Regions from separate parts of the Homo sapiens genome. Here region 2 is linked to region 1. The links come from fine-mapping of genetic effects on gene expression. A gene starts in region 1. The other region holds a variant in brackets. All regions are shown on one strand. Distances are from middle to middle.

Region 1 (5,388 bases):
TGGGGTATTTATGTTCAGGAATGTAAATGGGGGAGAAATTTGAACGAAGAAATACATAGTATCCCTATTTATAATGCAAATAAACAGCAAACAGGGCAAATGTTCAACAAGGTAATGACTAAACATACTACAGTACATCAACATTATGGAATACTGTTAGGATCAGCAATCATGCATACTCAGCTTAGACCAAGAAATGGTGTAAATGAATTGCTAAGAAGTAGAACACAGAATTGTAAGAGTACATTAAAACTAATTCAAAATATATGTACACTAGCAGAGCTATGAAGAAAATACAAACTGAAACTAGCATTTATTACTCTATGAAACAAATATTACATTTTAAGCATTTTTTAAAGGAGGCAATTTTAAGAAGTTATCTTTCATCTCAAAAAACAAGAATGGTGGTGTTTTCAAATGGTGATCATAACATTAATTTGCTGTAATAGACTGATTACAAAAGAATTAAAAAGAGACTAACATGCTTGACATACTAGGATACTGCAGGTCAAAACAGTCTACTATTGACAATTTTCTATGGTTTAACCTAATACTATTCAAAGAATGTATGAAATAGTAGAGTGTTTAGTTTGTATACTGTCTTTACATTTTTTTCCCTTCCTCAAACACCCTTATTTGGTAACTTACTTGAATGGGAGGCGGAGACATGAATGTTTTCAAAATTTTGCAAAAATAAATCACAACCTAGGAGTAACTATAAATACACTGAAAATAAAAATAACTTAGCTATGCAATAATGTATGAGCATTTAGTAGTTTAAAAAATTTTTTCAATAAAGATTTCACTTCTTATGAGTACCACAAATACAGCCAAATTCTTTCTTGATGCATTATCTGCTCTTTTCTCTGCCATAATCCTCACCGTCCTCCCACTCCCCATTCTCACTTTTCACAGGTTCATATCCTCTGTACCAGCTCTAAAGCTTAACACACCCTTATCACCCTACTCCAGAAGAGGATCTGTCCTGCCTTTCCCCAGCCTTGCCTGACCAAAAATCTTTGCTTCACATGACAAGAGCCAAGCTCCAGGCCTAACCTGGGGGAGCTTCCCCATTCCCAAAGTCAGGGAGAGGTGTTGACCTCTGAAACACAAAGTTATATGCAAAATACCACCACTGTGTTACCGTATAGGTACACAAACATACACAGTAAAGGTAAAAGAAGTGCATGGAAAAAATAATCAAAAATTTCACGAGTGGTTATCTTCGGAGGGAAAAGCAATTATGAAGCAGACGAGGGGCTTCCAACATTCTTTGCTAATGCATTATTTCTTAAGCTGGGTAAATGATACAAAGAGGTTTATTATATTACTTTTGTATTTCTTCATACATCTGAAATACGTAATAATAAATTTTAAAAGAAAGTAATTCAACTTAAATATCAGGAGGGATTCCCTAATATAAGATAGAAAGCAAACAGCTAAAAATTTTATTTACCTTATCGCCAAGAGCCTCTCTTTCTTTTTTAAGTTTTTTCTTAGCTGCCAACTTTTCCTAAAGGGTTAAAAAAAAAGAGAACAATACTGAGAAACAACCAGTTATATCACAAACACATACTGAAACTACAAATTACTAATGCTATGAATACTCGAACTGGGCGGTCTTTGTAATCTATTGAAATAAGCATCTGGACGTGGAGTTTTCTACCTAAATTACTGTAAGCCAAATGAGCTGGCCAATCAATAAGATTTCTTTAACAAAGACCTGCTCCTTTAAAAAAATCTAAACTGGCAAGTTTGAACATTTAAAATTTGAGTAGCTTAACCTTTTTCCATAAAGCCTCAAATTAATTAAAGTATGTGATGGTTTCCACTGTGTTTTGTTTTGCCTAACTGGTGGCATCCTAAAGACGACCATGGTTATGCTGCTTGCTTCTCTTGAAAAGCACTAAAAATAGGAATGGGAGCTGAGTTTTCAGGTTGTTTTCCATAAAACCATCACCAGTTATTCACATATTTTATAATCAAAATATACTTCTAAAATTTAGTAAGAGCTTGCAAGGTGGCTTAAGATTATCTGTATTTGTATTGTCAATCTATATATTCTTCTGGAGATTTCTAGATAGAATGCTTGACAAAATAAAAAATATTCTTTTTTCCCCAGCACCTACTGATCCTCAATCCACCAGGTTTCAGATTAGAAATCATAGCTCCAATAAGTCTTCCAGGACATCCCTCCCCAATACGTGCATACCAGAATGAGTTAAACGCCCCTTGTATGTATTGAAACAGCACCTTGACACTGAACATGAGTAAGAACCAGTCCCGGGCCTCAGAAGGGCCAGTAAGAGGAGGCAGACACATAATAATAATATTGTGTGAACTTCTACGATGTGCAAGAATAAGCAAACGTTTTCTTCCAATTGCAATTTAACCAGAAATGAGCACTGCGACCTTGACAAGTCGTTTAAACCTCTTTACGTTTCAGTTTGTTTACCTACCAGAAACGTATAAGGATAAAGCTGAAAAGAACAAATACAATTACCAGAAACTTTACAGTACTAATTTCGGTAAGGAGCTCCTGCAGGAATCAGAGAAGCAGTATTTTGGATTTATTACGTATTGCCTCCATTTCAGATTCTGCAAATTAACCAACGCTACCTAGACGGACCAAAGGGCTGAGACTTTTGCCTTCTGGGCCAGGAGGGCGTAGTTTTCACTACTAAGCCAACTGGCCTTACAGCTTTCCTTGTGAATCTAGCGTCCCAGGAAAGAGCCTATCAAGATAATCTTCCACCTTGACGCTCAGGCAAAAGGCTGAACCTAGAGTCTCCAAACTAGGGCGAGGGGACCAGAACACGTGGGCCGCGACGCCACCCTTCCCACGGAGCCACAGAGAACACTTTTGAGACCAGCAGACAACCACAGATGTGCGCCCCGCGACCGCCCTAAGCGTCAGGAACAACGCGCAAGCGCCCGGCAGCCCCCGCCTCTCGCGTACCTTCCGCTGCTGCTGTTTCCACCGCGTGAACATTAAGTGTCGCCGCTGTTTGTTTTTAATCTCCGAAATGCTAAAGCCTGGCGGAAAGGCAGCCGCTTTCGGGGGTTGGACCCCGTTTTCCGTCGCCCCATCCCCAGCGCCTGCAGCCTCCTGAAGTTCTTCGGCAGCGGCTTTCCGTTTTAGACTTTTCTTCCCGCTGCTGCTGCTCTTATCCCCGGCTTTCGCCATGGTCTTGGCTCCTTTGCTTCCGTACGGAAACGGAAATAGCCTTCTCCTGTGACCCCCTTCCTTAACCTTTTACTTCCGGGGTCGCAAAGTTTTTGACGCTAGATGTGTTTTGTGAGTTTTAGCCATTCAAGAAAATAGTAAAGCTGAGGCTTGAGGAAACTTTAGGCAGTTTGCCCAGCTGTATAAAGAGTGAGATGATGAGTTTGGGCACTCCTTGCGCATCTATGTGCCCAGCCCTCAAAATAATGGAACAACAACAAAAACCGTGCCTGGATTAGTTTACGTTTTACTTGAGGGAAACCTAAAATGAGCATACAAATAAATTATGGTGAGCTACAGAGTAAGACATGGTATGGAAAAAAAATAGAACAGGATAAAAGAAGATGAAGAGACATTCATCTTTTTGAGACGGAGCCTTGCTTTAATGCCCAGGCTGGAGTGCAGTGGCACGATCTCCGATCACTGCAAACTCCTCCTCCTGAGTAGCTGGGACTACAAACACGTGCCACCATGCCCGGCTAATTTTTGTATTTTTGCAGAGATGGAGTTTCACCATGTTGGCCAGGCTGGTCTTGTACTCTTGATTTCAGGTGATCTGTCCGCCCTGGACTCCCAAAGTACGTTGCAATTTTAAATAGGATTCTCAGAGTAGGCTTCATTGAAAACGTTACATTGAGCCAAGGTTTGAAGGAGGTAATGGGCTAAACTAGTTATCTGAGGGAAGAGCTGTTAATCTGAGAAAAGCTGGTTATCAAGGAGAAAAGCTGTCCTGGCAAAGCAAACAGCCAGCTCCAATGCTCCTAGTCAGTAGCAAGCCAGGAAAGGCAAGAAGTGTTGAGATTGGACAGGTGGTGTAGAGTTTTGTAAGGACTTTGGCTTTTATTTTATGTGAGATGAAGATCTCTTATAGAATTTTGAGGAAAAGAATGGTATGATCTTAACATCTTAAAAGTATCAGGCTGGTGCAGTGGCCCATGCCTGTAATTTTAGCACTTTGGGAGGCCAAGGCAGGAGGATTGCTTGAGCCTGGGAGTTCAAGACCAGCTTTGGCAACACTGTGAGACCCCATGTCTACAAAAAGTAAAAAAATATATATATCTGTTTGGGCATGGTGTACATCTGTGGTCCCAGCTACTCAGGAGGCTGAGGCAGTAGGATCCATTGAGCCTGGAAGGCTAGGTTGCAATGAGCCATGTTGGTGCCACTGCATTCCAGCCTGGGTGAGAGGGTGAGACCCTCTCAAAAAAATAAATAAAAATAAAGTAAAAGCGTCATTCAGAATCTTCTTTTGAGAAGAGCCTATGCAGGGGCAGGGTGTGTGGAAGAAGGGAAGAAATGATAGTGGCCTGAACCAGGGTAAGTCTTGTGTAGGTGGTTGAGAAGTGATTCCTCTGGAAGGTAAAGTTACTGATGGAACTGAAGGGAGGACATGAAAGAGTCAAGGATGACTCCAAGACTTTCGACCTGAGTGATTCAAAGGATGGAGTTACCATCAGGTGAAATGCGGGAAAGTTCAGATGGAACAAATCTGAGAGGTAAGATCAAGATTTCAGTTTTGGAAATGTTAAGTTTGAGATACTTTTTAGTGATCTGATTGGTGGTGTCAACTAGTCAGTTGGGATGTATGATTCTGCAGCAGGACAGAGAGGTGTGGGCTAAAGATCAAACTTTGGAAGTAATTGGCACATAGGTAGTATTTCAAACCATTAGAATGAGTGTAGATAGAAAACTGAAAAAAGAAGATCAAGGACTGAACCCTGGAGGAGTCCTGCATGAAGAGATGGAAAGAAAAGGAGGACCCAGCAAAGGAGAAGGAGAAGAGAAAATCAAGAGAGTAGAATGTCATGGAAGGCAAGTGAAGAAAGTGTTTTCCTAGTGGTTAAATTTGCTGTATTCTTCATTCTAATTTTATGAAAATGCTTTCCAAATAGCAACAAGAAATCCCTTTTGATTTACTGTTAGGAGTCAGTTTTCCAGAATCTGCCTTAATTTCAAATTTTATGTACCAATATCTATATTTCGTGTTTTGAGAATCCAATATGTTTTTGTCCACATTTCATTTTTCACCCATTCAAATTCTATTTAACAACAGCAGGATATTAAAAGCATCAAAACTGTGTCTTCCAGAACACAAGCTCCATCCAAACCTGCTATTAGATCACAAATTGAAAATTGTTGTTAAAAAACTTAAAATCATTATG
Region 2 (5,388 bases), 41 kb before region 1:
AGTTGTACCAAATAGAACTCTGATAACCAAAACCTCTTCAAATTTAACTACCGATCCCAAGAATCTCACACAGCAAATTATAGTAGTACTTTGGAAGAAAATGCCTATTTTTTCCATTATCATTCATGTTTTAATTTGTTCAGTGAACATTTAAACACCTCTAGTGCAAAGCACCTTGTTAGGCACTGGTTATAAATACAATGATGAATAAAATGAAGTCCCTCCCCACAAGGACCTATAATCTAATGGTAGAGTTAGATGTTAAGCAAATATTCACATAAACACATAATAATGATATAATCTGTTAATGAGAGTGAAATAAGAATATGCTGCATTTTAAAGAGTTTAAATATAGAAAATCTTGATTAAGGAAATAAAATTTATGTAGATATGAGAGACCAGAACCTTTGAGATCTGATGGCTTGTTAGATTTGAAACTTAAGCTAGGAATACTCTCTACTTAGAGTATCCTGCCCACTAAGTCATAGAAACTACAAATAGGAGTGTTCAGTAAATAATAGTTGACACCAGTCAGGCAAGGTGGCTCATGCTTGTAATCCCAGGACTTTGGGAGGCTGAGGCAGGGAGATCACCTGAAGTCAGGAATTTGAGACCAGTCTGGCCAACATGGTGAAACTCTGTCTCTACTAAAAATACAAAACTTAGCCGGGCGTGGTGTCGCATGCCTGTAATCCCAGCTACTCGGGAGGCAGGAGAATTGCTTGAACCTGAGGGGTGGAGGTTGCAGTGAGCCAAGATCACACTACAGCACTCTAGCCAGGGTGACAGAGCAAGACTCCGTCTCGGAAAAAAAAAAAAAAAGTTGACACCAAAAAAATATGTTGGAGCCATATCATTTTCACATCAAATGAGTCTAGTTGTGGCACAAGTGATGAGAACCCCATTTTTTCCCAGAACTCAAGTACCTGTTTAAAACACTTAAAAACTTTCATTTAAATTCAAGAACTTATATGATCACATTTTAAATTGGTATTTCTTTGCTTTGCAAGGAAATTCACACACAAAACCCATCATTTTCATGCCCAATAACATGCCTATGCAACTTATCTTTGTTGATCTGTATGTTTAATGATATTTCCATTTCATTTTGATTGAGATTACATATCTAATAATATCTTAAGGAGCTGAGTTGATAAGCATTTAAGAAATGTAATTTGAGAAGGTATGGTCTTTCTCAATCAGAAAGAAAAAAAAAGAAAACTTACCACAGCTAAATTATTTCCAATGCATTTCAGAAATAAAAATTTTTCTGCAATAGCATCTTCACCCAGGAACTCACCAAGACGCTCCCTCAGGGCTCGTAAAGTAAGTTGAGGAGATACTCTGAAATATTATAAAATTGCCTTATAATATAAAATGAAATAGATTTTGGATATACTAATGATTCAATAACTTTAGTCAGCTATCTCAAACACAAAGGTTGATTTAATGTGTCAGATATAGCTTAACATATTATGTTTCCACATTGCCGGCATTTTGTAGGTCTTCCATAAATAGCTCTTAAAATAAATAATTAAAAGTCTGCCTTTAAAATTATGCAAATAAACACTGTTTATAAATGTTTTGTACTGAAAAGGAAAACAACTGTCTCTTTGCTAATTTACTTCCAAATTTTATTGTTAAAATTTGCTGTGGAATAGATGTACTTTTATACATATACCAATGAATGATTTAGCCACAGATATTTATTTTGGAAGTTTGGCAGGAGTAGCTAGTGCTTAAAAATTTTTTAAATAATCTAACATTGTCAGAGTCCACATCTTTGCTTATTAGGGATACTTTGCTCCTGAATATCTAAAATTTAAAGCCATCACTTACGCTATCATCTGAGTTCTTGTTTTTCTGGGACCTTATGAGAAATATTAGGTAATTCATTCAATCAACACATATTTATTGAGCATCTACTATGTGTCAGACATTGTTCCAAGGGATGTGAATATGGCAGTCAACAAAATAAAAATCTCTGCCCTCATGGACTTTACATATAATCTAGTGGTGGGATAGAAAAATTAATGAAGTAAATAAGTAAAAAAATGTAATTCATAAGACACTACTAAGTACCACAGAGAAAAATAAGGCAGGGAAGGGAGAAAGGGACTGTATGAATGATTTAAAATACAGTGATTAGAGAATATCCACAGAAAAAGGTAATATGTGAGTAAAGACCTGAAGGAGATGGGAGAGCATATGGTTAGGGCAGAAAACTCATTCTAGACAAAAGGAACAGAAAGTACAAGGGTCCTGAGGTAGGGCT[A/G]TGTGTTCCAGAACAGAAAGGAGGCTGATGTGGTTGAAGAAAGAGATGATGAAGATTAGAAAGAGAGGTATGCGTAAGGAGTAACAACAGGCAGTCAGATCACATGGTATTATGTGTCTTTTTGTGAATTTGAAAATACACATCTACATACATATAAACACATGTTCTTTGTTTATATTTTTAAACAGGTCAGAGAAAGAGGCGTTGTAGATATATTGCTTTAACTGCTATTCTCAGATCAGCAGTTTTCCCTCCCTCCCTCCCTTCCTTCCGTTCTTCTTTCCTTCCTTCCTTCCTTCTTCTCTCTCCCTCTTTCTTTTTCCCTCTTTCTCTCTCTCTTTTTTGTTTTTGGCAGAGTCTCACTCTGTTGCCCAGACTAGAGTGCAGTGCTGCAATCATGGCTCACTGCAGCCTTGACTTCTGGGCCTCAAAGAAATCCTCCCACCTTAGCCTCCTGAGTAGTTTAGCAGATTTTTAATTTTAGATAACTTCTCTCTTAATTCACTTTGTGTATAACCATAATAATACACAGGTTATATACTGTTTTCTGGGTGGTAGTATTATGGCCAAGTGAGCTATTCCTACAGAACTGATTCAATTGTTACATAGCACTATATATTGATAGTATTCATTAAGTCAGGAAATGGATCTATCACGTGGACAAAATATTTTTCACTTATAGTTTTTAAATTTCCAAAAAGCATTTTTCTCTGAAGAAAACAGATTCTTCTTTCAGGCATATTGTTACATGACTACACAACACTTGCCTTAGAAATCCAGCTGAAATGAATTTGTTAACAACTTCTGTTGAAATGGTATTTAGCTTATAGTTCCATGATCCTTCAGGGACATAAAAAACATGAAGTTCCACCAACTGAATAAATTGAGAAGAACATCGGTTAAAATATTTTTAAAGTGAAAAAAAAAATCAATTGATGTCCTATAGAATTAAGTTTAATAAACACAATAGAAAAAAAACATGGAATACATACATCCCTCTGAACAAACAAAAACCAAAATGAACTAAAAATTTGTTCTTAAGTTGGCCACTTGGCACTTGGAGTACATTTTCCCTTGGCAACAATGTTATAGATGTGGCTATGAGATTAGCTCAACATCTTTGGCATATGGTGTTTTTTTCTGTGGCCTGCAGTAAGAATCCTAGGGCACCAAGACTAGTTTTCTTAACATCAACTTTACCTCACCTCACTCCCCACCTACTCAGTTCCATTGGGGTGATCCCCTGTGGAATCTTTATCCTTTGTATATTTTCTCCCTATTACAGTTCTGATGATTGCTAGCCCTCAGCACCTGCAAAAAGTTTAATACTGTGGTTTGGGGAATGTACTTATTCCCCAGAATTCCAGGAAGAACCTATTCCTGACCAATGAGAAAGGAATGATTGTTCTTACATTGGGCATGTCTATGCTTCTATGTAACTATCCACTTTTCCACTGATGTTTTGTTATGACCTTGATTAGAATCCTTCTATTTAGAAGAATATTTATATAACCACAACAGAAACAATGATTGCAAATATAGTCTTATCTTTTAGTCAAATTAAGTTTGATACTCCCTGCATATTAAAAGTCAAAGCATTTAAATGAATATTCTCGAATGCAATATTAAATATCTGAGAAACCTTTAAAAGTTTGAATATGACCTACTGTTAATATTAGTAATTTCATAGGAGATAAAAATAGTTCCTGAGCATAAGGTTTTCTTCAAGTTGTTTTTATAAATCAAGAAAATTACTTCTATGCTTTTGATGATGATTATTAACTAACAATTTAAAATGTCTGTATAGATCTGACAGTGAAGTTTTCTATACGTTGCATTTTGAACACTAGAGCACTTAAAAGATTAACCCCTAGCTATACTATTAAATATTTGCAAAACCTTAAGAAATTTGAAGTAAATATGACCTTATCTTTATATAAATGTATTAATATTTTACAGGAGGAAACTGTTTCTTGAACTAAATATTTATATATATGCTTCTTAAAAAAGACATTTTAATGGCTTTTTTCCAGAACAACAAAGTAGTTGAAAAAATACTGAAAAATTTTAAAGTACATATTAAATCTGACAATATTATTTTAAGGTTAAATATTCTATTTACACTCAAACGCTAATTTATTATAATCTTACCTTCCTGACTTTAATGGAAGCTACTCATCAATAACATTTTCATTAAAACCATTAGCTATTTTAAAAATACATTACAAGGTATGGCACATACTTTTTCTTTTGTCCCAAGTTTCAAAATGATTAGAGATGGCACTGTTGGATCCTGTCTCTATTTAAAATATGGATATCTTGTTCATCATGGATTTTTTTTGCATTAATTTTACTAAAAAAATTTTTTGGTAGCCCCTTAAATTTTTCATCTGTGGCAAGTACCTCATTTGCCTCAGACTAGTCCTGGCTCTGTGAGAAATATAGCCAACAAACAATAAATACTGACTTCTAAGAAGTACAATTTTTAAAATTTTTTAAAAATTAAAAAACAATAAACATAAAACACTAATAGGTAACATACTATATTATAAAGTGGTAATTGCTAGGAAAAAATAATAAGTAGGGCAGGGTAAAGAAGAATGGGAAGATATGGGATGGAGAAGTTTTCAGTTTTAAATAGTCAGGGTAGGTCTCATGGAAAAGGTGAGATCTGAGTAAAGACCTAAGGGAAAAGAAGGAATTAGCCAAGTGAAGATCTAGAGGGAAAGAGTTCCAGAAAGAGATAAAATAAAGGTATTAAGGTGAGAGCATGCCAGTATGATTGAAGCAGAGAGAGTAGGGGAGAGGGTAGAAGATAAGTTCAGAAAAATAAGGAGGTAGAGGGGAAACATACAGCACCTTCTGGGCCATTTTCACCTACAAAATGGGAAGCTAATGCATGGTTTTAAGAGAAACATTAAGATCTGACATATATTTTTATTTAATATGAAAAATTTTAAACATACATATAAATAAAAAGAGTAATTCTCTCCCTCTGAATAAAATATTCAAAGTAAACAGGACATCATGACACTATATCCCTAAATTATTTGGCATCCATATTCTAAAAATAAGGACCTCTGTAACATAATCACAATTTCATTTTCACATCT

What was found. PIP is the estimated chance that this variant, and not a neighbour inherited with it, causes the effect.
Region 2: its variant is the best candidate, but not a certain one, in a credible set for the expression of RPF1 in whole blood (INTERVAL, PIP 0.72).

Annotation. Positions count from the first base shown.
Region 1 is chr1:84,477,081-84,482,468 of GRCh38, reverse strand. It overlaps RPF1 (ribosome production factor 1 homolog), which reads right to left and starts at 3,203. Exons shown (of 9, transcript NM_025065.7): 1 at 2,960-3,203; 2 at 1,457-1,513. The coding sequence starts at 3,187. RefSeq lists enhancers at 2,627-2,786, 2,982-3,542.
Region 2 is chr1:84,518,346-84,523,733 of GRCh38, reverse strand. It overlaps SPATA1 (spermatogenesis associated 1), which reads right to left. Exons shown (of 14, transcript NM_001397487.1): 3 at 3,043-3,149; 4 at 1,227-1,344. Among named protein-coding and RNA genes, the nearest start is that of GNG5, 14 kb to the right of the region's middle. The variant A/G (reference allele first, on the strand shown) is at 2,276.